Regions from separate parts of the Homo sapiens genome. Here all the other regions are linked to region 3. Evidence: fine-mapped expression QTL. A gene starts in region 3. Each other region holds a variant in brackets. All regions are shown on one strand. Distances are from middle to middle.

What was found. PIP is the estimated chance that this variant, and not a neighbour inherited with it, causes the effect.
Region 1: its variant is fine-mapped to the expression of POLR1D in fibroblasts (GTEx, PIP above 0.99). The same link has a PIP of 0.9 or more in esophagus mucosa.
Region 2: its variant is fine-mapped to the expression of POLR1D in whole blood (INTERVAL, PIP 0.94).

What each region holds. Positions count from the first base shown.
Region 1 is chr13:27,662,684-27,670,867 of GRCh38, reverse strand. It overlaps a transcript of POLR1D not described here. Among named protein-coding and RNA genes, the nearest start is that of POLR1D, 45 kb to the right of the region's middle. The variant T/C (reference allele first, on the strand shown) is at 4,177.
Region 2 is chr13:27,641,344-27,649,527 of GRCh38, reverse strand. It overlaps a transcript of POLR1D not described here. Among named protein-coding and RNA genes, the nearest start is that of POLR1D, 24 kb to the right of the region's middle. The variant A/G (reference allele first, on the strand shown) is at 3,946.
Region 3 is chr13:27,618,395-27,626,578 of GRCh38, reverse strand. It overlaps POLR1D (RNA polymerase I and III subunit D), which reads right to left and starts at 4,687. Exons shown (of 2, transcript NM_015972.4): 1 at 4,570-4,687; 2 at 3,130-3,704. The coding sequence starts at 4,595. The coding sequence ends at 3,329. It overlaps LNX2 (ligand of numb-protein X 2), which reads left to right and starts at 6,050. Exons shown (of 10, transcript NM_153371.4): 1 at 6,050-6,204. RefSeq lists silencers at 4,431-4,990, 5,611-6,500 and an enhancer at 5,294-6,022.

The DNA.
Region 1 (8,184 bases), 44 kb before region 3:
TAAGTGTTCACTGAGTGAGAGAATGAATGAGTACACCAATGGTCTGTTCTTCATGCAGGATGTGGGATTAAAAATAAGTCTTGTGGAGTTTTCTTTGTAAATTGGTACTGAGCTTTGAAAGGAGTATTTAGCAGACTGATGAGTGTAATTTGGAGTAGATAGGGGCTTATAATTGGACAGTATATACTAGTTCAACTTGAGGGAGCTACCACTGAGGAATTAATAAGAAAAAACAATCCAGGAAGGACAAGGGACCACCACTTAGGGCAGGCTATACATTTATGTGGAGGAGAAATGTCTCCCTCAGGTGTTTCATATGATGTGTTATATCTGGTATTTGTTTCACATAGAGAGTATTTATAAGTTATCGAAACCAAAGGTGAATATTACAGGACTATATGGATGGGAGAAATAGTTCATCTTTCATCTTACTATTAATGATGCTCCAAAATCCATGTTTATTATTGGCCTTTTCATGGTAATGTTCATTGAGATTTATAACATGGGTTACCAAATAAAAATGTATAAGTTGCCTTTGAATTCTGCCTTCAGTGTTGCCTTGCCAGTTTAATGGGGATTAATTTACTTTCCTCTTTATGTGTTCCTGTGTGTAAAAGGGCATGCTTCCTGGGCATCTTTTCCATGTTGAGAACAAGAGTTTCCACTTGGCAAACTAACCTTCTCAGTATCTAGACTCAGAAGAGCCATGGGTGAGGCTCAATTTATGATCTGCTGACATGGCTTTCCAAGAGATAGTTTCTCAAATTCCTTGGATTATAGAATGTTTTCTATGGTATCAAAGAGGCCGCGTCCCAAGGATTTCTTTACTCCCAAATCTCACTATTCTTATGGATGGAGAAAAAAAAATTCAAACATGGAAGATCTAGAATACTGGCTTCACCTGAGGTTTTAGTTTTCCATAGCTATATTCCATTAGCTGCCATTTAACCATTTCACAAGAGTTGTGAGAGTTTTTCTCTTGGATTCAGATCGCTGTCTACACTGGCCCTTGGGAAACAGTTCCCCATACAAATGTTCTTTGCTGGGGCTTCCATGTTCTGATCTATGGGAGTAGATTTTGGCTTGCAAAATGCAGTGATTATAAAAGTTCTTTAGGTTCTTAAATTGGGAAGACATGGAGCATATACACCTTGAGACGACCCTCCCGTCCTGTGTTTTGAGGGAGCCGAGTTTGGATTAAGTTTGGCATAGGGTACAGGAAAGAGTATGGGTTTTTGATTCAGAGAGTCTTGGCTTCAGCTAGCATTTCTGCCACTTCCTAGTTCTGTGATTTTGGGCAAAGTTTTTAATCTATCCTCAGTTTCCCTTATTTGTAAAATGAAGGTGAGTAGCATCTTCTTCATAGGGTTGTGGGATAACTACCTGAACACAGGTAAAAGATATAACAGTGTTTGGCCACAGGTGATAGACAATCACTGTTACTGTCCACACAGTTCCAATACAGCCTACAAACACCTCATAGGGAGAATATTTATGGGTTTCCTAGATTCAGCTCCTCTGGGGAGGGGAGTCCTCTATACTGGATCCCAGGACACAGAACACTCCTTAGGAAAGTGATGAGGCTTCATTTCATCAGGAACCCACCTCATATAATGTCTATTAAATAGGCACTGCTTATCCACCAGATACTCTTTATGATTCTAAGGTGATGGCATGACCTCTACGAATGACGAATATGTAACTAATTGTAAAAATATGGGCTGGGTGTTGTGGCTCACGCCTGTAATCCCAGCACTTTGGGAGGCCGAGGTGGGCAGATCACCTGAGGTCAGGAGTTCAAGACCAGCCTGGCCAATATGGTGAAACCCCGTCTCTACTAAAAATACAAAATTAGCCAGGTGGCACATGCCTTGTAGTCCCAGCTACCCGGGAGGCTGAGGTAGGAGAGTTGCTTGATCCTGGGAGGCAGAGGTTGCAGTGAGCTGAGATCGTGCCTTTGCACTCCAGCCTGGGCAACAGAGCGAGACTCCATCTCAAAAAATAAATAAATATGTAAGTGCCATGCTAAGTCACTTGAATAATCAGTGAAAGAATAAATGCTACCCCAAAGCATTTTTTATGCTTTGAAGCAGATGTGCCAATGTGCCCCCTGCCCCCCTGCCAACCTCTCAGCAAAAAAGAAGTCCACAGGGAAATTCAAAACTCCACAGCCATCTTCCAGAATCAGCTCTGAGGAAATGTCCTTTAGTGCTTAGCCTGCTGAGCCCTAAAGTAAAACCCACTGAGATTTATAACATGTGTTTCCAAATAAAAATTTATAAACTGCCTACTCAGAGGGACCTACCCTAAGTCCCTCCCCCTTCATAAATGGGCGATTCAGAAAGACTAGCCACCAATAGGTGACCAGATATGGCTAGGAACCATAGCTTTTTGCTTATATTTCTTACAGGCTGTTTTCTAACATGAGATAAAACAAAAAATTATGTCAAGTTGCATTTGTGTTTAAGTCTTAATGGTTTCTAGTGGAAGCATGGAACGCAGTTCCTAAAATTTAGGGCTATTTGCACTTCTTTCTTTACCTATTGAAAGTTAAAGACTCACTCCAAACATCTTAGTTTGCAGATGAAAAAATGCAGTCCAGAAAAGTGACCCAGATAAGGCCTGAAGCTAGCCAGAAGCAGAGGCAGGACTAAGATTCAGTTTCTCTAACCTCTATCCCAGGCTTTGTGATCTCTAAATATAGTTACAATGGAGATCAGATAGTAACACAGGCGGATGGGAGCTCTTGGCAGCGCCAGTATGTTAACCACAGAAACAGGAGGTGGCTGGTGAATGTATCTCATGACCAATCCCTCCCCTAACATCTACTGTATACATAGGGAATAAAAAATAGATAATTTTCTCTTGACATTTTTAGACTGGAAATTATGGCTGCTCTTGATAGAAGCCTAAAGATTCCAATAAACTTTTCTGAAATAGAACAGTGCTTTTAAAAGGGAAAATGGTTTTGTAGGCCACTGTCGTTTAACACAACTTAAGAAAGGTAAGTATAGTTAGGCTAAAAAGCTTCCCTTAATTTTGAGTACAAAAATGTGTTCATTTCAGTCATTCCCTTTTAAAGGATAATGAACTTGTCTGTGTGTTATAAATACAGAATGCAAGGCTGGGTGCAGTGGCCCACGCCTGTAATCCCAGCACTTTGGCAGGCCGAGGCGGGCAGATCACCGGAGCTCAGGAGTTCGAAACCAGCCTGGGCAACGTGGCGAAACCCTCTCTCTACTAAAAATACAAAAATGAGCTGCACATGTTGGCGCACACCTGCAATCCCAGCTACTCAGGAGGCTGAGGCAGGAGAATCGCTTGAACCCAGGAGGCGGAGGTTGCAGTGGGCCGAGATACGTGCCATCACACTACAGCCTGGGGGAAAAGAGCGAGACTCCTTCTCAAACAAAATAAATGAATAAATAATGAATAAATACAGAATGCATACACAAATGACACAATTCAGCTTTATTTTTACTTAATTATAACAATTTTTAAAAACTCCATGACTTTGTGCTATTTCTAATATTTAAATAAAAAACATTTCAAATTTTGCACAAATAATTTAGGCCAATACATAACTAGATTTGAATAAAGTCAGATGAAGCAATAATTCCTCCTCTGTGTTTGAAAGGAATGAGTGTGGTTACAAAGTCACAGGATGAGTCCCTGGGATCTGGGGTGGGAGAAGGGGTGGATCAAGAATGACTTGGGCTTGTCACTCCCTAGCAGGCTGAGGGCGTGACACAGCAGCTCGGTGGCGGAGAGGTCTATTCTAGTTTCTAACACTCCAATGCTAACTTTTTGGATGTATTTCCTTCTAGCATGTAGAAAGGGCTTTTCTTGGCTGCCAGGAAGTAGGGAGCAGGGATGTGGCATGGTGATGATCTGAGGACAGCCAGGCATATGCTCAGACACTTTGGAAAACTGGGGAGGGGGAACAGGGAGACAGAATCTTCATCTTCTTCCTTTTGTGAACTGGGGAGGAGGGTGCTTGGTGACATTTTCCTGAGTATAAAGAAGGAATACAGGTTTGAAAGGTTTGTAATTGTATATGAAAACAGGTATTGAAAACCAATACTGGGGGAAAAAAGGCATTGTAAACACTTCTATTTAAAATGAAGATTTCTGGAACAACTATACTATATAGTGGTATCACAAGTCTTTAGCTGG[T/C]AAGATCTAGCACTGAAACAACTCTTAATTTTTAACTTGTGAGGGTTCTTTTTAAAGCACCACTTAAGACCTATATATTAAAAAAATTAAATATAGAAAGATTGTTCTATCTAATAAATGAGTTTGAGAATGCACAGGAAACAACAAAACCCATTTTTAACCTCTGGTAACTGAAGTGGAGCATTAAATTCAAAGCCACTTTGAGGATTTCCTACATTGTTCACCTAAGGGAAAACAAATGCAGAGCTATCAAAGAGCTTCTCGATAAATTCCCAGACCTTGGAGGGCTACAGCTTTTCATAAATATGGTCACTGGACTGATGATTTCTAAATTTTAAATGTAATACCCCCAAAAAGTAAAATATAGGATTTATAAGTATTTTATTTTTCTGAGAAATGACCAAAAAATTGGAACCAGTTTTAACAATCTCTGAAAACTTTAAATTCTAGACATGTTTATTTTGAAACACACTTCCAAACAAGATAAACAACAATATGTAAGTCTACTACACTGCAGAAGTAGCTTAAACTTGCCAAGACATCCTCCTTTGCACTTGTTTCCTCAAGAGTTGCTAGGTCATTTTTTTTGCCTGTGGCCAGCAGCCTCTTTAAAAACAACAAAGGACCTAATGTCAAAGTCACTCTCAGGTGTTTGCCCTGCCAGCTCAGGCCTTCTCCGCACACCGCACCCCGAAGGAGCACGGAGGCCCGCAGGGCTGGCTGGCCCTGGTTCCAGCCTCACCGCCGGTTGGACCGCTTTTCGTACTTGTCCTGGCTGCTCCGCTTTCGTGGCGGGGAGTAACTGGCGGAACCTCGAGCGCGGAAGCTGTGCTTGTAAGGATGGCTTCTGTGTTTCTTCGGGTTTTCTTCTTTCTGGGCCTGGCTCTTCGCTGGTTCCTTATCGCCCTCTTTTTGTTCATGGTCTTGCTCTTTATGAGAGGGCAATGTGTTTTTAATTGTGTTAATTAGAAATCTTTTATTGGTGCTAGCAAGAGGACACTTCATCCTGGGGTGGGGAGGAGAAAAGAAAAACCATCACAAATCAAATGGTTAACTCCAAAGCTGGACCCACTATCGTGATTAGTACCAAAGAATCCTGCTCCCACAGAATCGAGTTTCTGAATTTGTTAGCTTTCCTTGCATGCCACCTAGTGTAAACTCTGAGTACCAGGGAGGAAAAAAAAAGACGATTGGAATTCTTGAGACAAGACTGGCTGGAACACTTTAAACCTTTCTTCCTTCCTGGGACTAAATTTCCTACTGAAGTTCATATGTACAGGTATTGACCACACTGTGAACTAACAGAATCATTTAATATTTTCTTTCAAACTAGTAAGTGCCCTATTTTACTGTAACTTATTTTGGATTAAATTTATTGCATCTTGCGTTTTATTACCAGACAGTGAAAACTGTTCCTTTCCAAGGAAACTAAAAAGTATATTCTGCTGTATATTAAATACAGGAGCTAAAGGATCTACTATAGAATAAAAAAATTGTGTAAAGAATCCATAAATATGCAATAATCTTTTACTTAAAAAAATTCTTACACTTCTATTTCAGGATGCCAGGCTATGCTCTGTGGAGGAGCACTTTACTCAATCTCCTGCCCTGGTGAATTTCTGTGCAGGATATATTTCAGTACCTTCATGATTCAAGTTTACCTAGGAGAGGCTGCAACCAATCAAATTGCTAATTAATGTGCTTAGATCTACTTATATACTATGTATTATCTTTTTCAGGTGTTAATAAATCTTTCATTTTCAAAAAGATGACCCTATACAAATGAGAACGTTCATATTTCTCTTAGCCTTGAGGTGTCTGCCATATGATGGGCTACTTTAGGAGTATGCTGATTCTCAAAATCATGTTATTCAGGGTGGCTGGTATTAAACAAAAACGAATGTAGAATAGCCACATTTCTATAAAACTTTGATTTACAGAGAACCCCAAACAATACTTCAAAATCAAGCCAACAACACTCCACATAGGAATTGTGTGGACTAGTACTGTACAGGTGAAGTATAAGCAGTCAGGCATTAGCATAGCCTCACTCACAGAGGTCAGACCATCTCAGAAAACCAAAATGGCACTGAATCTGGAAGTAAAAGGAAGAAAAACAAGAAAATACCTCCTGCTGCAAATAGGTAGCTCTTGAGCCTACAAGGACAGAGAAAATATCTGAGAAAAATGGTCAGGCCAGAAAAGTGACAAAGGAATGAACTAGAACAAGGAGAAACTTAGAAAAGGACAGTGGAAAATTAGAAAATTTAAGAAAAGGACAGTGGAGTGCAACAGAAATAGTGGGAACATTCAGAGGTGGTGACAGCTCTGGAGTTTAGAAGCCACAGTGAATGAGACGAAGGGCAAAGAAGAAAGGCAAAAACAAAGAAAAAACAGTTCTGCAAGTACGAACTATAGAGCTTCACAGAGCTTCCAGAAAAGGTACACCAGCATTACGCTGCCTTAGTAGTCTCAAGGTAAAGACATTTCTACCTCCTGGGGGCACGCTGGCATTAGGACATTCCTGTGCGGGAAGACAGGCACGTGATGAGAGGCAAGCCGAGTTCTCCTGCAGGGTCTGACAGGGTACTACTGAATGCAGGCGTTGCTTTGGTGAAGACACTTGACCCACTGCAGTTGCAAACTCAGCAATGATTCAGAACAGTATTAAACACTGGCATGTTCCAAAACAGCATAACACAGACAGCCTACAGGAAAAACTACCCTCCATCACAGAGAGTAAAAAGCTTAGAGGGCCTGTCTTTGGCAATGGTGGCCTGGTGCTTACTACAAGAGCAAAATCTTTTTTATAGACAAATGAACTACATATGTCTCTTGGATATATAGGGCTAGGAGTAGCTGGTGAAACATGTCCAGCAACAGAAGAATTCTGGGGTCTTTTCACTGAAGTGGGCCATCTCAGTGGTGGTAAACTGGCCAGTTCTTCTCTGCATTAAACAACAAGGAAGGGTACTTTTCCCAGACGTGATGGTAATCCAGGATCTCAGAACAAAACCTTTGGTAACTACTGGTGAATTCCACTCTATTTTGCTGTTTTCAATGTCAGATCATCTTTAAAACCAAATGCTTCCTCGAGGTGAGCAAAGCCCTGCTACTAACTGCAGCATTCACGCCAAGAGGCAGAGGGGACTGCACCTATCTTCCAACTGCTAGTGTAACCCACTGACTCAACATAGTGACCCAAAGAGTTAGCCAGAGAATGAGATGGTTTTATAGAATAATTCCACAAGAAAACTGGCATTTACATCTCTTTTAACATCAGAGATGCAGTTTTTTAATGTTGGTTATGCCTGGGATTCTATTCTAGGTAAATAGCCAAGGGTGGCCTGAGGAGATCTTGGTTTACTGGGGTGGGGTGGAGGTGGGGTTTGAAAGTCAGACATCTCCCAGGCATGCCAGTACACATTTTAGAAGTGATGACAAGTGCTCATTCACACTCTACTAATAAATAGGGCAGGGCAATGAGATACAGTAGTTGCAAGCAGATGTGAAGGTACATATAGTAAATCATTTTATATAAAGAAATTCCAAAATCTGCACAGAATAGATCCAAGTCTAAGGACGGCAACATCAAAACCAATGTCTGAGGGAATCAGTGGGGAGAGCTTCTCTGGCCTTTAAGGTAGAAATTAATTTTGCTGAATCTCACAGTTGGTTGTTTCATTGCTAAGAAATCACACTACATGAGACAGTGGCTGGGCACACATGCTCTGGAATCACACTAACAGACTGGACTTTGGGCATGTTATGTAATCTCCCTGCTGCCTCTTAGCTGTTAAGTGGGGATAATAATGGCGACTATCTTAAAGGGTTGCATGCAGATCAAATGAATTAGAACATGTAAAGTACTCAGAACAATGCCTGACACATAAAGGCATTTGGTTAATTTCAGTTTTGGTTCACAGCCTACTATTTAATTAGCTGTGTGATCACAAGCAAGTTACTTAACTCCTCTTTGCATTCGTTTCCCCCACTTGCAAAATGGGA
Region 2 (8,184 bases), 23 kb before region 3:
TATATAATATTTTCAGAATAGCAATACCAATATTATTACTAACAATATGATGACTGAAAACAATTTCTTTGTAGTTATTTTTTATCTTTTGGAAATATAGTCAAATTCCAGATCACCTGAAATAGTTTCTTTCCATGTAGCTAAGCCATCCACTCAATGGTTTATCAGGTCCATGTTTTATTTTGCTTGATTTTTAGGTATTATCTTTTCCATTTTAATTTTTGTCTTGGAATTTAGGTGAACTATGTGCATGGTTCTAAATGTCAAAATTACAAAATGAGCTATGTTCAGAAGTTTAGCTTCTACTCTTTTCACATTTTTACATTTTACTCTTTTTAATGACCCTCCTTATTCCATTGCAGTACGTTTTTAACTGTAGATATAAATTCCAGAATCAACAAATTCATCAAATGCAAATGGCATCACTAAAGTAGTGCCTAGAAGGGTGTTTTTTTTGGTTTGTTTTGTAGAGATGAAGTCTCACTATGTTGCCCAAGCTATTCTCAAACTCTTGGGCTCAAACAATACTCCCACCTTGGCCTCCCAAAGTGCTGGGATGACAGGCATAAGCCATTGTGCCCAGCCCATATTATTAAGTTTTAACAAGCTCTATTTTGTACATAATCTGCAAAGGTAATCTTTAATTCTACATGGCTGAATTGTCACATAATCAAAATGCTTACAGTTAAAATTAATTTCCTAAAATAAATTTTAATTTACTAAGGACTATAAGTAAACTAGAAATTCTTAAACAATGAACACCAACATAATATTACTCTTGCACAGGTGACTTTGCGCACAGTAGTATCTAAATACCTCTTGGAGACTTGTGAACTAAAGGGACAATGAACCTATACTGCGTATCCTCCATAGGCGCCTGCTGCCCATTTCTTCATGTTATTAGAGTTTCTCAACATTCAGTTCTCAGCAGTGTCTTACTCTACACTTGTCTCTGAGAGATTTCCTCTGCTTCCATGGTTTCCCATTTCCTCTATATGCTAAAGATTTACATATTTATATCTCCAGCTAAGAATTTTTTCTTAAGTTTTAAGGAAGATTACTCAAAGAACTTACCAACCCATGGGTCCCATTGTTTCAGCTCTAGTTTTCCCACGTTTTGCCTCCTTAAGCAGTTCTTCTATTGCTTTCCTGATAAGAAAAAGGAAAAGATTTGAGAGGCAGTCACCCTACTAAGTTCTGAAAATCAATTCATTCCAGGTCCATGATCTTGGGAAAGGAACTAACTTTTGAAGCATGATTGCTGGGGCAAATTTTTTTTTAAATGGTTGACAATTTTGAACACATAAATTAAAAAGAAACTATTAATATAAAGAGAAGCAACATTGAAGAGAAAAAAATTACAAACTGGAAAAATATTTTTGATATGAGACAGTTAAATCATATATCCTTAATATAAGAATTATCTTTTCTTATTAATTTGAATAACCAAAAGACATGAACAGCCAAATATGTATATATCTATATTTTTTCAAATTCACTGTTATTCAAAGAAATACCAGTGAACTCAACAAGGATAAATGTTTCTGCCCATTAGTTAGTGAGGGGGTAGAGAAATGGATAACTTCTTCTCTACTAATGGGGACTGAAGCTGATATTACATTTCTGGAGGACAATCCAGCAACATAATAAAGAACCTTAAGAATAGTATATACCAGTTGATCTAAAAATTTTTTACTTTGTCCTATGAAAATATTCAAATAAGTATGGAAAAGTATATGTACAAGGATATTCAAACTACTTGTTAACAATTAAAGAAAAAACAGAAAACTTAAATATTTACTGATAAAGGATTGGTTAAATAAATCATAACATATCCACATATGTGGAAGATTAGGCAGTCATTAAAAATGAAGACAAATGAATTTTTGGCACAGGACACTCATAACATATTCAGTATATAAAGCTGGTACAAAAGAATATGTGTAGAATAACCTTAATTTCAAATTTATTTACATATATATTACATAGAAAAACATTTGGAGACGGCTAGGTGTGGTGGCTTATGCCTGTAATCCCAGTACTTTGGGAGGGTGAGGTGAGAGGATCACCTGAAGCCAGGAGTTTGAGACCAGCCTGGGCAACATAGCAAGACCTGGTCTCTAAAAAAAATAAAAATAATAATAATAAAAAAATTTGGAGGGATGTTATCAAAACAGTAAGATGAGTTTTAAGGTGATTTTTTCTGTTTGCATTGCTGCATTTTCTATTTTTTCTACAATGAACATGTATTATTTGTGTAATTTTTGAAGAGGTTAAAAAAACAGAAAACATATTTATCAACCATATTCTGAGACTTTACTATGTGTAAGATACTGTGCAAGGTGCTATGGGTAGCAACATAGGAAGATGATCGTCCCTGACTTGAATATGATGTATCAATAACAAAGTTAAGAAAAAATAAAGTTAAGAAAAAGAGAGGTATAAACAAATATAGTCCAAAACAAATATAGTCCAAAGACAGAACTATAAATCTAATCATGAATTTTTGAAGCTGGATAATTATATAGAGTCTATATTAAAATGTTATGACACTATTATAATGCTACCATATACTATATAATCTTCAAATGATATTAACATTCTGTTTACAAGAATGTTTTATTTCATGTTGATTTTTATCAAAGTAAAGCATGCACATAGTTTAAAAAGACAAATATTATTTAAAAGATTTTAAATACAACAGTCTTCTAAATTATCCTGCCCTACCCACCAAAGAAAACAATTTCAACTTTTTTCATCTGTTTCTCGTTATTTACCTCCATATTCCTAATACTATGCTTTCAAACTATTTCACCACCTCTTAATCTTCAAAAATACATCTGCTTATTTTTGTGTAACTCATTTTAAAATAAACTCTTATTGAGATCTTTAAAAGATGTCTTTTCAGTTAACTCAGCAGCTTGACATTTTCTGATCCTTCTTGGGAAGGCCCACTGCTACAGATCAATGAAAAACTAAAGCGCTTGCCTATCTACTGACATGTTGACTCCCTCAATCACAAGTTTCGCAGCCCAACCTCTTATGGAATCACAAAGAGGTAAGTTCATCTGATGACCACATATGCTGCTTCTTCCAGCTCTTTAGAATAATGATATGGCCTGCTGAAATGATCTGGGGACTTTGTCTCTTACAGTTCAAGCAAAATTTATCCTAATAAGGTCCAAAACAGATTGTTTTTCACCCTTATAGATTTAAGTAAAAAAATTAAAGGGTATAAATATTCCAAATATGCCTCTTCCTTTCCCATAAATTAGTGTGGTAGTTTTAAAATAAAAAGATAAATCATACCTAGATCCACCTATGTGCTCTCCTTCTGTCAAAAGAAATGGTTAAAAATAATCAGGAAAACAACTTTTTGGGGCAGTTCCCCAATTATGAACAAAATATGTATCAGTTACAAATAAACTAGAATGTGTTTTCCCATAAAAACTATGTTAAAATGTTTGCCTAGCTTTCTGGACCAGACTATAGAAACTTATTTGAGTCAGAATCCAGCTGAAATGCTATACATCTGCAGAAGATACTCAGTAAAGATTCTTGCAGAGACCCTGAAGGCATATTCTAGGTGCTTTCAAGAGCTTGAAGTTTGACAGTGACTCTTCTTTAGTTTCGATTCTACTTAAAACTGTCTCTAGCACTGTTATTAATTTTACCTGGCACGCTTAAGGATGCCTTCTGGTTTACGAGTACAAAGAGAAAAGAAGATATATGTATGAGAAAGACTGCCTGCGGTGAAACAAATTCACCAAGGATGGAGGACCATAAAAGGAGGAGTAGATACTGGGTGGGAGGGCACTCAGTCAGCTTGTCTACCGTGTTCCCACTGGTAAAGGGGGCTTAGCTGCTGTTCACAGCCAAAGTGGTGCAGCGTGACCCATTCCCATGGTTCGGATCTACCCAAGTTAGGTATCTGCAATTGGTTTA[A/G]CAACAACTAATGAAGATATAGAGCTTTAAGTATACCAAGTACTATTCTATATAACCATGATAACATAGTTATTACCACCAATACAGATGTGGAAAGTGATATTCAGAGACATCGACTAACTTGCCCAAAGTAACACTGCTAACGATCAAGGAGAAGGGCAATGAGGAAGAGGAACAAAGCAAACAAAACCCAACCTCTGTTTTTAAGGCTAGGTATCATCTGATCCTTCTATTAGACTATCTCCTCCACAAATATCTGCGCAGCAAATCCTGGAGAAATTGTTTATCATTAAAAGGCAAAAAATAAACTAAATGGGGAAAAAAAAGGCCTAACAGAGTGCCACTACTGCATTCATTCAAAGAGAACTGGGGGATAGGCTGATACTGGAGAGGCGGAAGGAATGAAGGAGGACTGATCACTATTTTGTCCTAAGAATGTTGAGCATTCGCTACTTCCCACCCAAAAGTCTCCTGCATAAGCTCCCTCTACAGAGCTTTACTTCCAAAGAAGAAAACAATTCTTAGCAATCAAGTATCCCAACCTTAAAACACTATAACTACCTTCAAAATTAAGGGGAGAAAGTCAGCAACTTCCCCATTACTGTAGCCTCTGTTGTTTCCTCTAGAAATCTCATTAATGAATTATTGGGTAAGGAAATTATAAATCCAGTTTCTATTCTACATGATCACAGGGGCAAAATAACTTAAATTATCAAAGATTATGAAACATTAACATGCATGAAACAAGATAGTTTTTAATGAGGTGATGAAAGAAGTATAAACTGTAATTAAAATACAGGAAAAGCAAATAGGAGAATATATAAGAACTAAGTATATACAGAACTTGAACAATTAAAAAATTATTCAGACATAAACTTAGTTCTTGGTATGCTAGTTTTTACACTTGGTTCTTTTCAATATCTTGAAGGTTTCTTTGTAAAACTAATTAATTATATTAGAATACTAAGTTCCATGGAGACCCAAGAGAGCTGAGTCATTAAGCAGACGGTTTTCTGGGCACAGGAACAAACCACAATCAATTTTCAATGATCCATGTGTGTATTATCTCCAGCCAATTTTCCATACTAGCACAGCTTCCTCAGGCCTGCCTGTTCACTCCATTAGCCAGCTGGTACATGCTTAAGGAATGTCAACTGATCATAATAGCAGCTTAAATAAAACCCAAGTAGGAATGCAAATCTGGTACAAAATCATCTTAAAATCCAAAGTCAAACAAATTAGTTTTGAGTTATCTGGGTCTGTTTCTTTTTAATCACTTTAATCAACTGAGGGTTAACTGTTCCAGTGTACAGAAGGGGTAGCAAGAAATTGAAGGCAACTGAAATAAAGCACCAGAAATTGAGAGGAAAATTAAATAATAAAGTAGGAAAACAGGAATTTTAAAGGAATAAAATCAGAGAAGCTAAATCTCAAATAACTGCTCAAAAATGATGGAGTCAGCCAGAGGGAACTATAGGCCTCTTCCTGTGATGGTGAAGGAAAGCTAGGAACACAAGGCTGAACGTTAGAAGCTTTCCTCATTTGTGTCTCTCTCAGTCTTTAAAAGTCACCTTTGATCAGCTAGCTGTATAGTACAGTATCTGTCACATGATGGACAGAAAAACAGGTTCAAAAAAGGCAATACATTGCTTAATAAGACTACTCTCTTCTTGATGTGTTCAAACAAGCATGACTTGGTGACAAGAATACAGACTTCTTAGAAAATTGGCAGAAATGAGTACAGCATCATTTGCTGCTGTTGACTGGGAAGTTATCTAAAAGGCCCAACACATTATCAGTGCTGAAGGCAAACATGTTTATACTTGTGGAGTCGTCCACATACGTGTAAAAGAAACCTTACTATGGCAATCTAAATTTCTTCCCATAATGGAATGATAAAGCTTAGAGAGAAAAATGGAACTATCTACTCGATCTTCAGTAAAGTTTTGATGTCAGGTCATTGATTAAAAAAATATAGACAGATGATCAGATCACTCTGAACATCTGCAAACCACTGCTTATAGGTTCACACTGCCAGTAGTAACTAGTGGTTTAGTAGTCATAGGGATCTGTAGAAACCACAGGACAAAGTTTGGGTTCTTTATGACTTAGTGTTTTGACTACAGACACAGGCAAAAATTCAGAAATATCCTTATTTAATTTCAGTAAAATATCAGATTGTCTGGGGTCATGTATCAGCTCTAAAGAAAGGTACAAAAATTCAAATTGTGAAAAGCGTTTTTAAAGACAAGGTAAAACTCAATAGGAACACTGAGGTTATTTGGGAAATGAAAAGACTTATTCACAGACATAAACTAAAGGCACAATAAATTAATCTGCACATTTTGTTAAATTCAGCTAATCTACATTACGCACTTGCTAAATACAAGGTACTGTGATTTATACGGTGAATTAGGCTCTTCCCTGAAGAGGCTATTAGGGCCTGCATATAAAATAAAGAGCCATATATGTACTTTAAAAACAAATACTGGATTATCTAGGAGAATGTGAGGAGGGAGCTCCAATATTCATTTATAAAATAACAAACAGAAAGTCATGAGAAAAGGTGCTGAATTTTTAAGAAGAACTTATGCTGGTAAAAGACTGGAAGGTGATGGAGGAACATGAGTTTGAAAGGAAAATTAATGAGATCCTTTGTTGATTTCATGCCCAACATGAACTAAAGAGATAGATGAAAGTGGTATTTTAAGCAGTGGTGGAAAAATAAGACAAAGATACTGCAGATTGCTTTTTGCAATGATGATAATAATTACTTCACAGGGTTGTTATGAGGATAAAATAAAATATTTGATTTGGATCCAAGTGTTCTGTATTTTATAGGAAGCAGAAGAAATATGATAGCTATTTTTTTACACTCCTAAAGGTCTCGGAACTTGTCTTTTTCAACCTAGTTTTCTCTATGCCTGGCACATACATGGTTAAGTTAAGATCTGGGGAATAAATGGGTTCTGGGTATGTGTGGGACATGATACAAATGCAAGGTTTTAAAAATAAAAATACTGCATCTGTAGACAGAATAGATGATGATGGGTGAGATGGAAGAAGAGGAAAGACAAAGGAGGTGAGAAGAAGATAAAAGAAAAAAATATAGTATGTCACTGGGTAAATAAATGTAATGAAAAAAATGAAGAGCTACAGGTTCCTGAGGGAGCAATCCCCTGTAGTGGCCAAACAAACAGGGGCACAACAGCAACACGTATCCTTAGTGTCATCAAACATTAGGGCAGACTGGGAAACCACAGACACTGACCAAGGACACAGAATGAGGCAGAGCTGGAATATTTCCTGTCAGGATTGAGGACTTTGATCTACTAGGGCTGTCTGAAAATCTCAGCAAGGTTTCAGATCTGGAAAACACTTTTCCCTTCAGTGAGCTACTGATCAGAGATAAATGGCCTTTGTTTAGCTTCCAATATTATTCTTTTGCTTCATTGTATATATATACCTGTTAACATCCTCTGAACTCCATTTCTTAGTGGAGATGCTAATTGTGTTTTGAGATGACAGCGCCTAGTGTTGGAGTGGAGGGTGCCACTACAGAGAGGGTGAGATGTCACAGTGGGGCCACTGGCCTGTCTCTGCAAGGCCTTGCCACACAGATGCTCTGTGGGATAACCACATCTAGGGCCTTGGCTCTGACAGTCCAGAGACATAACATGGCTTAGACACTCCCACCAACTGCCAACACTACATTTGCTGTTACATGCACGGGGGAGCTTTGCCCAGGTTATGCCCTCTGTCCAAATCACTCTCCACTCACAACCTTTACACCAGACACTCAGCTCTCACATTACCTCTCCACCAAGCCTTTCCCGATCTCCCTGTTTGCTCCACATCAATAGATGTAACTGCTCCTTTCTTATAGGCCCACTGAGGGGCACATGAAGTCCCCATACAATATTTCCAAACATGTAAAAGTTATAAAATAAGCTAAAAATATTTAAATATATTTCTTCTTCCTATCTTGACAAATATGCTTTCATCATAACAAAATAAAAAATATTTTCAGCCATTTTTTGAAATGGCTGAATATTTGGATTAATATTAATATTTGGATTAATGGTAATATTTGGATTAATGTGGAAAGACAGAAATATTTCGTATATATTCCATGAAACTTATTTTCTTGCACTGATTTTAATAAAGTCCCTAATTATATTGTTATAATCAAGATTTTCATATAAATTAAAAGTGATTTCATTCCTTGCAAATTATAGG
Region 3 (8,184 bases):
CCTAGTCCTTTTTGGACCAACTCAGCTTTCCCTCAGGTCCCTACAGACTTTATGCAGATTCCTTTCACATATACAAGACTCTTGGTTAACCTGCCTGCCCCCTTCTCAGTTTCTTCCCTCCACCCAACTGCCTTCTGCAGGTGTTTTGTATGAACCCGTGAGTTTATGGTCACCCTAAAGACATTCAAGACTGCATTCTACGTGATCAGTCTAAATTCTTTTAGGTGCAATGAAGTTGTGATGTGGTGAGCGGTCGCCTCTGGCTGTGTTTCCCACTGTACTTCATCTACTATCATCAGTCTGTACCTTGATGTCCACTAATTAAACTTTGTTTTCATCTCCTGACAGGCCTTGGTTTAGAGGAATTAAACTCCAGGTAAGTAATTCTGTTTACTATCCCCACAGGCAAAGTTTTGGGAGAGGAAAAAAGTTTTTAATCCTTTTCCACATCCTTTTTGAGCTTCCTTTTATCTTCAAAGGCTAATGCCCTTAAACAAACATTGACTTTCCAGAATTTCTTACTGTCACCATAAGAGAATATGCTGTATCCTTGCCCTATGACATCCCTGCTCCCGCCTAAACTCACCTCTTCCAATGTCTTCATGTGATTCTTTTATTGGAAAACCAAACTAAGCCATTCCTCTGTATAATGAGTGGTAATGTTTACTCTTCTTAGGCAGTAAACTAATGCTGTTACTGCCTAGTGACCTCCACGTTAACTCCAGGTGACATTTTTCTATTCCCTATTTGAAACCCTTGGCTTCCACACCCTATTTTTGCACTTTCCTACCATTACATTGACCCAAACTTACAAATACTCTTATCTTTAACTCTTCTTTGACCCAAACTTTAAATACTGAAGTTGCCTAGGGCTTTGTTCTGGGCCCACTTCTTTGTCACCCTCTATTTTTTTTTTTTTAATCAATTTATGTCATCTTTATGGCAAGGACTCATAAAATTTGTCTCCAGCTTAGATCTCTTCCACGATCTCCAACTCACATAGCCACTGCTTACAATGTTCACAAATGAAACTTTTGACTCCTATCATCTTTTCCACCTCCCAATCTATTTTCCATTTTAAGCTTCCCAATTTCAGTAATTGGCCCCAAAGCTAGGCAGTAGTCATCTTTGATTCTTCATCTTCCACAGTTCCTGAAGTGTACCAATTCTGTGCCAATTCAATTCTAAAATATACCTCAAACCTACCTTCTCTTCTCCATCACTAGCTTCTACCCTTCCAGGCCACTTCAACTCTTTATAGTGTCTCTCTCTGCTTCTACTCCAGCCTCCCTATAATTCATCTCCCCCCACTCTGTAATCAAAGTAAAGAAGACGTCATTCCCACTGAACCTAAAATCCAAAATCCCTACTACCCCAACTCTTCCTCCCATGGACTCCAGAGGACAGGCCCTTCTCCTTGTCTACTGTGCTACAAAAACATGCAAATCTTTGTTCAATATCTTCAGTTCCTCATGCCACCAGTTTTCTGCTTTAGGACCTTTGCACATGCTATACCCCCAGAATGCATTTTCTCTCCTCTTTGCACAGCCAGCTCTCTCCCTTCCTGTAATCTCTAGAACACCTTTCCTAACTTCCGTGCCTAAAGTAGATTCCTTTCTTATGTTTTCTATCTTGACCCTACATTTGCTGCTTTTACAGAATTACAAGTTTTTAATTTTATATATTTTTTTGAGACAAGGTCTCCCTCTGTCACCCAGGCTGGAGTGCAATGGTGTGATCATGGCTCATTGCAGCCTCAACCTCCTAGGTTCAAGATATCCTCTCGCCTCAGCTTCCCAAGCAGCTGGGACTACAGGCATGTGTCACCATGCCTGGCTACCTTTTTTATTTTTTTGTAGAGACAGGGACTCCCCATGTTGCCCAGGCTTGTCTCAAACTCCTGGGCTCAAGTGATCCTCCCACCTTGGCTTCCCAGGTGTGAGCCACCATGCCGAGCCTCACAATTTTTTTTTAAGGGGCTCTTATAACACATGCTTTATGAGAACAGGACTTACTCTGTCTCATCCACTATAGCTATATATCTATCCCCAAGGCCTGGAACATACTAGTGCTCAAAAATATGGATATCTCTTTAAAGAATTTGGCTGAGTGTAGGAAATGTAGGCTCTATGGCACGCTAGTGTAAGAGGTCAGGTTTGAGTGACTGAAAAGCTGCATGCCATAACTACTTACATGAATTCATAGAGTATTTACTAAGTGTCCACTACCTGTCAGGTGTTCCAGGTACCAGAATCATGTTGACCTCCAAGTTGGTTTAGTGGGTAAACAAGATAAGCACTACCAATAGCATAGTAAATGCCAAGGCCAGGAAACACAGGGTGTAATGAAAGCACAAAGAAGTACCCAAACTAGGCTGAGAGGCCTGACACATAAGCTTTGACTTAAGAGTACGGCAGGAGTAAGACTGGCCCAGGAAGAGGGGATAGATAAACAAGGGCCCAAAGCACAGAGCACTGGCGGGTGGGATATGTGTTTTCCAAAACAGTCATTTCCCCTATATGGAATTTTCCTTCTCCTTGGCTTTACCTTCTCTCAAATAGGGCTTCTTCTACATTACCCTAGGCTATACCTACTTAAGGACTGAAAATGTTTTCTAGTCATCCCAATTTTCTCCTTCTGTAATATAATCAAAACATCTTACCTTACTTAGATCATGACTAAGTATATCCCAAAATTCAAGCAGTAAACTGGTATCTTTCCTGTAAATGCCTCAAAGATGGAGCCTTACTCCCTAAAACTCTCATGTAAAACCAGAATTCTCACACTTCTTCCAAATTATTCCCACCCTTGCCAAGTCTACCAATCACAGCAAATGATGCAATTCTTTAAAAGCCAAAAAGTTTAGCAAGAAGCCAAGTCCCCACCCCAATCTTCTTTCCTTCTGTTTTTAAACAACAATCTAACTGGGGTCATGGTTTTTGTCTCTTCCCTTACCCCCACCACTCCAACTACAGACATGGATATATACTTCTTTTAATTCCCATGATCACAGTTCTTGTCTAGGCCTCTGATATTCTCAGTTTCCTCATTTTCAATGCTGGCTTAATTAGAAAAAAAGTCATCCTCAAGGACCATTTGGTTGCATGGAACAGAAACCAGTCAAACTAGTTTAAATAAAAGAGGGAATTTATTAGAAGAATACAGAGGTTCTTGCAGAGATTCCAACAGCTGCAAGGGGTCAACAGCTAGAATCACGCCTTTCTGAAGGACAGAGTATGCTGTAACCACAAACTTCTAATTCTGGGTTCTGCACCATCAGGAAGAGAATATCCTACAGGACAGTTCTCCTTGTATACTGCATAAAGGACTAGAATGTGGATTCATTTCTGCTTGCTTTTTGATCCTTATAGTCCTTTATGCTGGCCTCAAACTTGTCAAGCACATGTTGGCAGACATTCATGAGCTCATTCAGGCCTCTCTGAAATGGCTCAACAGCTGGAAGGGTACCTCGAGTCTGAATGCGTAAATTAATTTTGCTCTCTGAAGGATGGGTCGTAGTGTAACCACAAAATTCCACTTCCGGGTTCTTCATGATCATGTAACGTAGAGAATTTCCTAGGGTATGGTCTTCCTCGTGCAATACAAATGTCACACAGTGTCTATCTGTTCCAGCTGCCTGGACCATTTCCAGGGCTGTCTTCCTCTCGCCTTCAGCCATTGAGGTCTTCAATCCAGATATTTTTCTACACACATATTTTTTATAAAAATGAGATCATACTGAATATTGTTTTGTAACTAGCTTTTTCTCATTTACTATATCACATTGCAACACATTATTATTAATCTACTCCAGCTACACAGAATTATTCGCCTCTCATTTTCCTGCCTCCACAAACTCTATCAATAAATATTTAATTTATTGCCTCCAGTTTTTCCCTGCTCCATTTGACCATCCACACTGGCCACAAGGGGAGTTTTCTTAGAAAAACACAAACTTAAGTGTTTGCAAAAATATTTTTTGGTAGAGTCACAAGCAAGGGATAGGATTAGAATAGGACTGGTCCTGCTAGAGGATGAAGAGAGGGTTGAAAGGCATAGAAATCCCGATTGCTCTAGTATAAAAATAGAGGATACAGATGATCAATGTGCAGGCCCAACTACGGCTTCCATTTTGCAAGAGAAGGAAACTAGGAGAATGGAAGGTTCAGGAGTCAAGCAGCAGGGAGAAAAAGAGCTCAGCGCACAGAGTGGCTTTAGGAGCAGTCTGCACATAGAAAGAAGGTGAGCCGTAGTTACAGGGACAGAGGCACGAGTACCGTCCTCAGGAGCAGAGGCCCGGGGCGTGATTTTTACACACTGCTGTTGTAACGGGGGTGGGCAGTTCGGATACTTAACTCTGGTCTCCCAACTTGTCTTCCCTCCTTGATAGCTAGTGTACCTCTCAGCCTCTCAACTGAAACACATTCATGTCTCCTCCCCACTTCTCTCTCCATGCTTCTTCTCTGCGCCCCGAGTCAGGCCCCGGCTGCCAGGCCAGGCAGCGTGCCCCTCGGCCACCCGCTCCCCTTGGGCGCGGCCCGCTCCGCCCGCCTCCTCCTCGGCCGTTACCTCTCCAGCTCCTGATCCTCTTCCATCGCTGGGGCGGTTTCTGGATCCTCAGGTGGTGCTGGCGGATCGGGGGCTCTGTCCCATAGCGCGAGGCGCGGAGGCGAAGCAGGAAGCAAGGACCGACCGACGGAAGGCGCGGAGGACGGAAGGAGGGAGGAGGAGCCGCAGCGGCGCGGCAGGGCCCAGCCGCGGGGCGGGGCATGAGGCTCCACCCCCAGCCCCCGCCCCGACGCGGGGTGAGCGGTGGCTCGCGGCCCCGCGGCTCACCTGGGCGACCACGCGAGGCCACTCGCGGCGGGAGGGGCAGGGGGCGGGGCCAGCGCCGCCTTACCCCGAGGCCCAGACAGGCCTGCGGGCGCCCCGGCTCAACTCTGGTACCTTTCCCCAGGTGATGGCGAAGGGGCGCGGCCTTACCTGCCGCCCCCAAATCACTTCCCTTCCCAGTGGCAAGTCCGAAAGCGGCCCGACTTCCCAACTGGGGCGGTGTTGACCCAGGATGGCCCTTCCTGGGACCCCGGCCCTCCCGGGCCTTTTGTGGGACGACAGGCTTAAACTGTAGTCGGTCAACACACCTTGAAGAGGGAGGGGGGTCACGTGCGAGATGAGTCACCACAGAATACGAAGGTTGAAGGCGGTATTTGTTTCACCGGGGAGCTTGCAGTTGCATTTTCAACTGGGTCAAAATAGGGCAAGAAAGAAATGTCTCTTTTGGGGGAGTGAGAGTTTGGGAGAAAACTGTTTCCCACCTTATCCTTTCCGTCCTAGGATTCCTTCTACCCCCAGAGCGCGTCCTCTCCGGCTGTAGACTTCCTTTTCCCTTTCTCCCCAGTGGCTCCTCAAACCTCCTCACCTGCGGAACCCGCCCTCACCTTTGTTCCCAGGCGCCCAGCCCCCGCCTCGGCAACCTTTCGCCGCCCAGGCTCGCTCTCCATCCAGCTCCCTGCGTCCCGGCCTTCGCTGTGCTCCCTCAGGTGCGCTTCCTCTCGAATCGGCCCTTCTTGTCCCCTCGCCGCTGGCCCCGACCCTGCCCGACTCCAGCTGTCCAGCGCAACTACGTTTCTGCTTCCCTGCGCCACCTGTTCTCCTGGCCTCCCCCCACCCCGCCCCGCGATTCCTCTGGATGTTCACTCCTTCCCCAGCTGTGCCACTCTTGGCGGCGGCCGGGGGTGCGCGCAGACACCTAGCCAGCGGGGCTTCCGCAGGGGAATCAGGCGGGCGGCGGGGACAGCCCGGGGCGAGTGGGGGAGGCGGGCGGCGAGGGCGGAGTGGTCTCACTCTAACCCGGGAGTGACGGGTCCCTTCTGGCCCGCCTCCCGAGCTCTCGGATAGGTGGAGCCGCCCTCTGGTCCGCCCACCTCCCGCCCTGTGCTACCTCCGATTGGCCCGGGTGCGGGTTGGGCCGCTCGGCCTTGGCGCTGCCCCCGGGAAGGCAGCAGGGGCGGTTGAGAAGTGAAGTCTTGGCCGGAGTTTGCTTTTTGCCAGGAAATCCGCGGCGGCGGCGGCGGCGGCGGCGATTCCTGGCGGAGCGGAGCCGGGCAGGCTCTCCGCTCCCTCAGCGGGCCGCGGAGAGCGGGAGCTGGTGCCGAGCAGCGGCGCCAGGAGCCCGTGCGCGGCCCGGGCAGCCGCGCTTTCCCAGTGAGTAACTTTGCCCTGCCCGCCTCGCTGCGCGCCCTCTCGCTGGCTGCGGGCAGCCGCCTCAGGTGCGGGCGTCAGCTGGGTGTGGGTCAGCGCCGCGCCCCGGGAGGCGGCCGGAGCGGCGCCACAGCTCGCCCCGGAGCCTTGGTCCTTCGCGGCTGTCTTCGCTCGCCCGGGCTGCGGGGCTGGCGTGGACTCGGGTGTGGGTCTGGTCCAGGAGGGAGAGTCGGCGCCCGGTGCCCGCCGCCTGCAGGCGCCCGGGAGGCGGGCGGCCTCCGGCTGTTAGCGTTTGCTGGTTCCGGCCACCGTGGTGCAGAGCTTGGCGTCGTTTGCTTCTTAAGGGAAGGGAGAGGTGGGGTGAGTGTTTAAATTTCCTCTGTGTGTGTGTGGTGTCGGCAATGAGAGTGGCACTAGCTGCCTTTATCGGGTTTTGTTCTCTGGAAAGGGATGGGGAGAGATCATTCCCTCCGCCCCAGCCTGTTGCCTGTGAATTCTCACCTTTCTCTTTAGGCTGGAGAGGGTGGGAGAGAGATTTGACATCTTCCAGGGGGTAATTTAAAAATATGAATCTTGATTTGGAAGCAGTTGCACACAAAGCATCATTCAGGAAATACATCACTCGCTTTTCAAAGCTGTATGCCACGTTTTAAACAAGGACTTTTGACTCATGTAGTGTTTCTTTTAGTATTTCAGTTTACGTTAAGTTTATGAATCCAGACGTTCGTTTGTACCAGGAGCTAAAGTACACTTATGCATGGGCTTTGCTGTGTATATTATGCTTTTTAAAATCACAGAAATCAGAAACAAAGTTGAGTGAAAAGCGGTGGCGGTGCAGGAGGAGGAACACTTGTGAGCTCCAGCTTATTGGAACTGCCTTTAAGAATTTCACATTCTTGCGGCAATAGTACTTACTTGTAAATTGGCCTTCTTCCCAGGACAGGTTTTGATATTTCTTTTGCATGTACTTCGATGCAGCACTAATGAAGTTGGATCTCAGTAGATCAATTTTATTTACTTTGCTAGATTTGATTCCCACCCCCACACCTCTTTAGAAAATGGACTTTGGCAGGTAAAGAAGGAAGCGGGAATCTGGTATCCTTTTTGGCTTGTCAAAGCTTTGTTGAGCCATGAATAACAAAGTTTTGGCTTTTTAGCTTGTCCGAGTCCCACATGTGAGTTTTCCCATGGGGTAAAAGTAGGCCAAATGAGAACCAAAGTAGAATAACATCACTTTTAATTCGGCCCACTTGTGTGTTACATTCTCCATATATCTTGTTTCTCTCATCAACTTTGAAATTTTTTCATTATTTATTCATTTAGCCACTGATAAAGTACCTACTGCATGCCAGCCATTGATGGCGGGGGTTGCTTCTTGCCCAGTTTTCTCATTTGGAAACTGATCCATGCCTTTATCCCACTAGTTACCCTGAAGTAATTTGAACTTAGGGAGCATTTCTGCCTGGAGACCTGTAAGAATAGGTGTTACGTAGGCACTTAGTCTTCAGATTGGTTTGGGATTTCGTACATTGTAGGCACGTAGCACGCAGGCCACTTAAAAATAAATGTATGTGTCTTTGGGCTGTTGTATTACGAGCTTTGCATATGGGCTTGTCTGGCCGAAGGACCCAGTGTCCGAGGTGGAGGTAGTAGTCAGGGACATGTATTATTCATTTCAGAACACTTGGCACCTTTTCTTGCTTACATTGGGCACTAAAATATTTACTGAATTGACTTGAACAGAAAAATGAAGGATTTTTTATACCAGATTAAGAAATTTGGACTTTATCCAGTCAGTGATACTGAGCTGCTAATTTTAAGCAGGAGAATGTCATGATAACGGGTAAGCATTCCAGAAAGATATCTGCAGCGTCTGGAGGATGGTGGGCTTCCAGATGGGCGATATGGAGACTAAGTTGGAGGCTGTTCTAATGGAGGGGTTAAGTGCTCAGGGATTCTCTATTCAGATTACCTGGGGTGGAA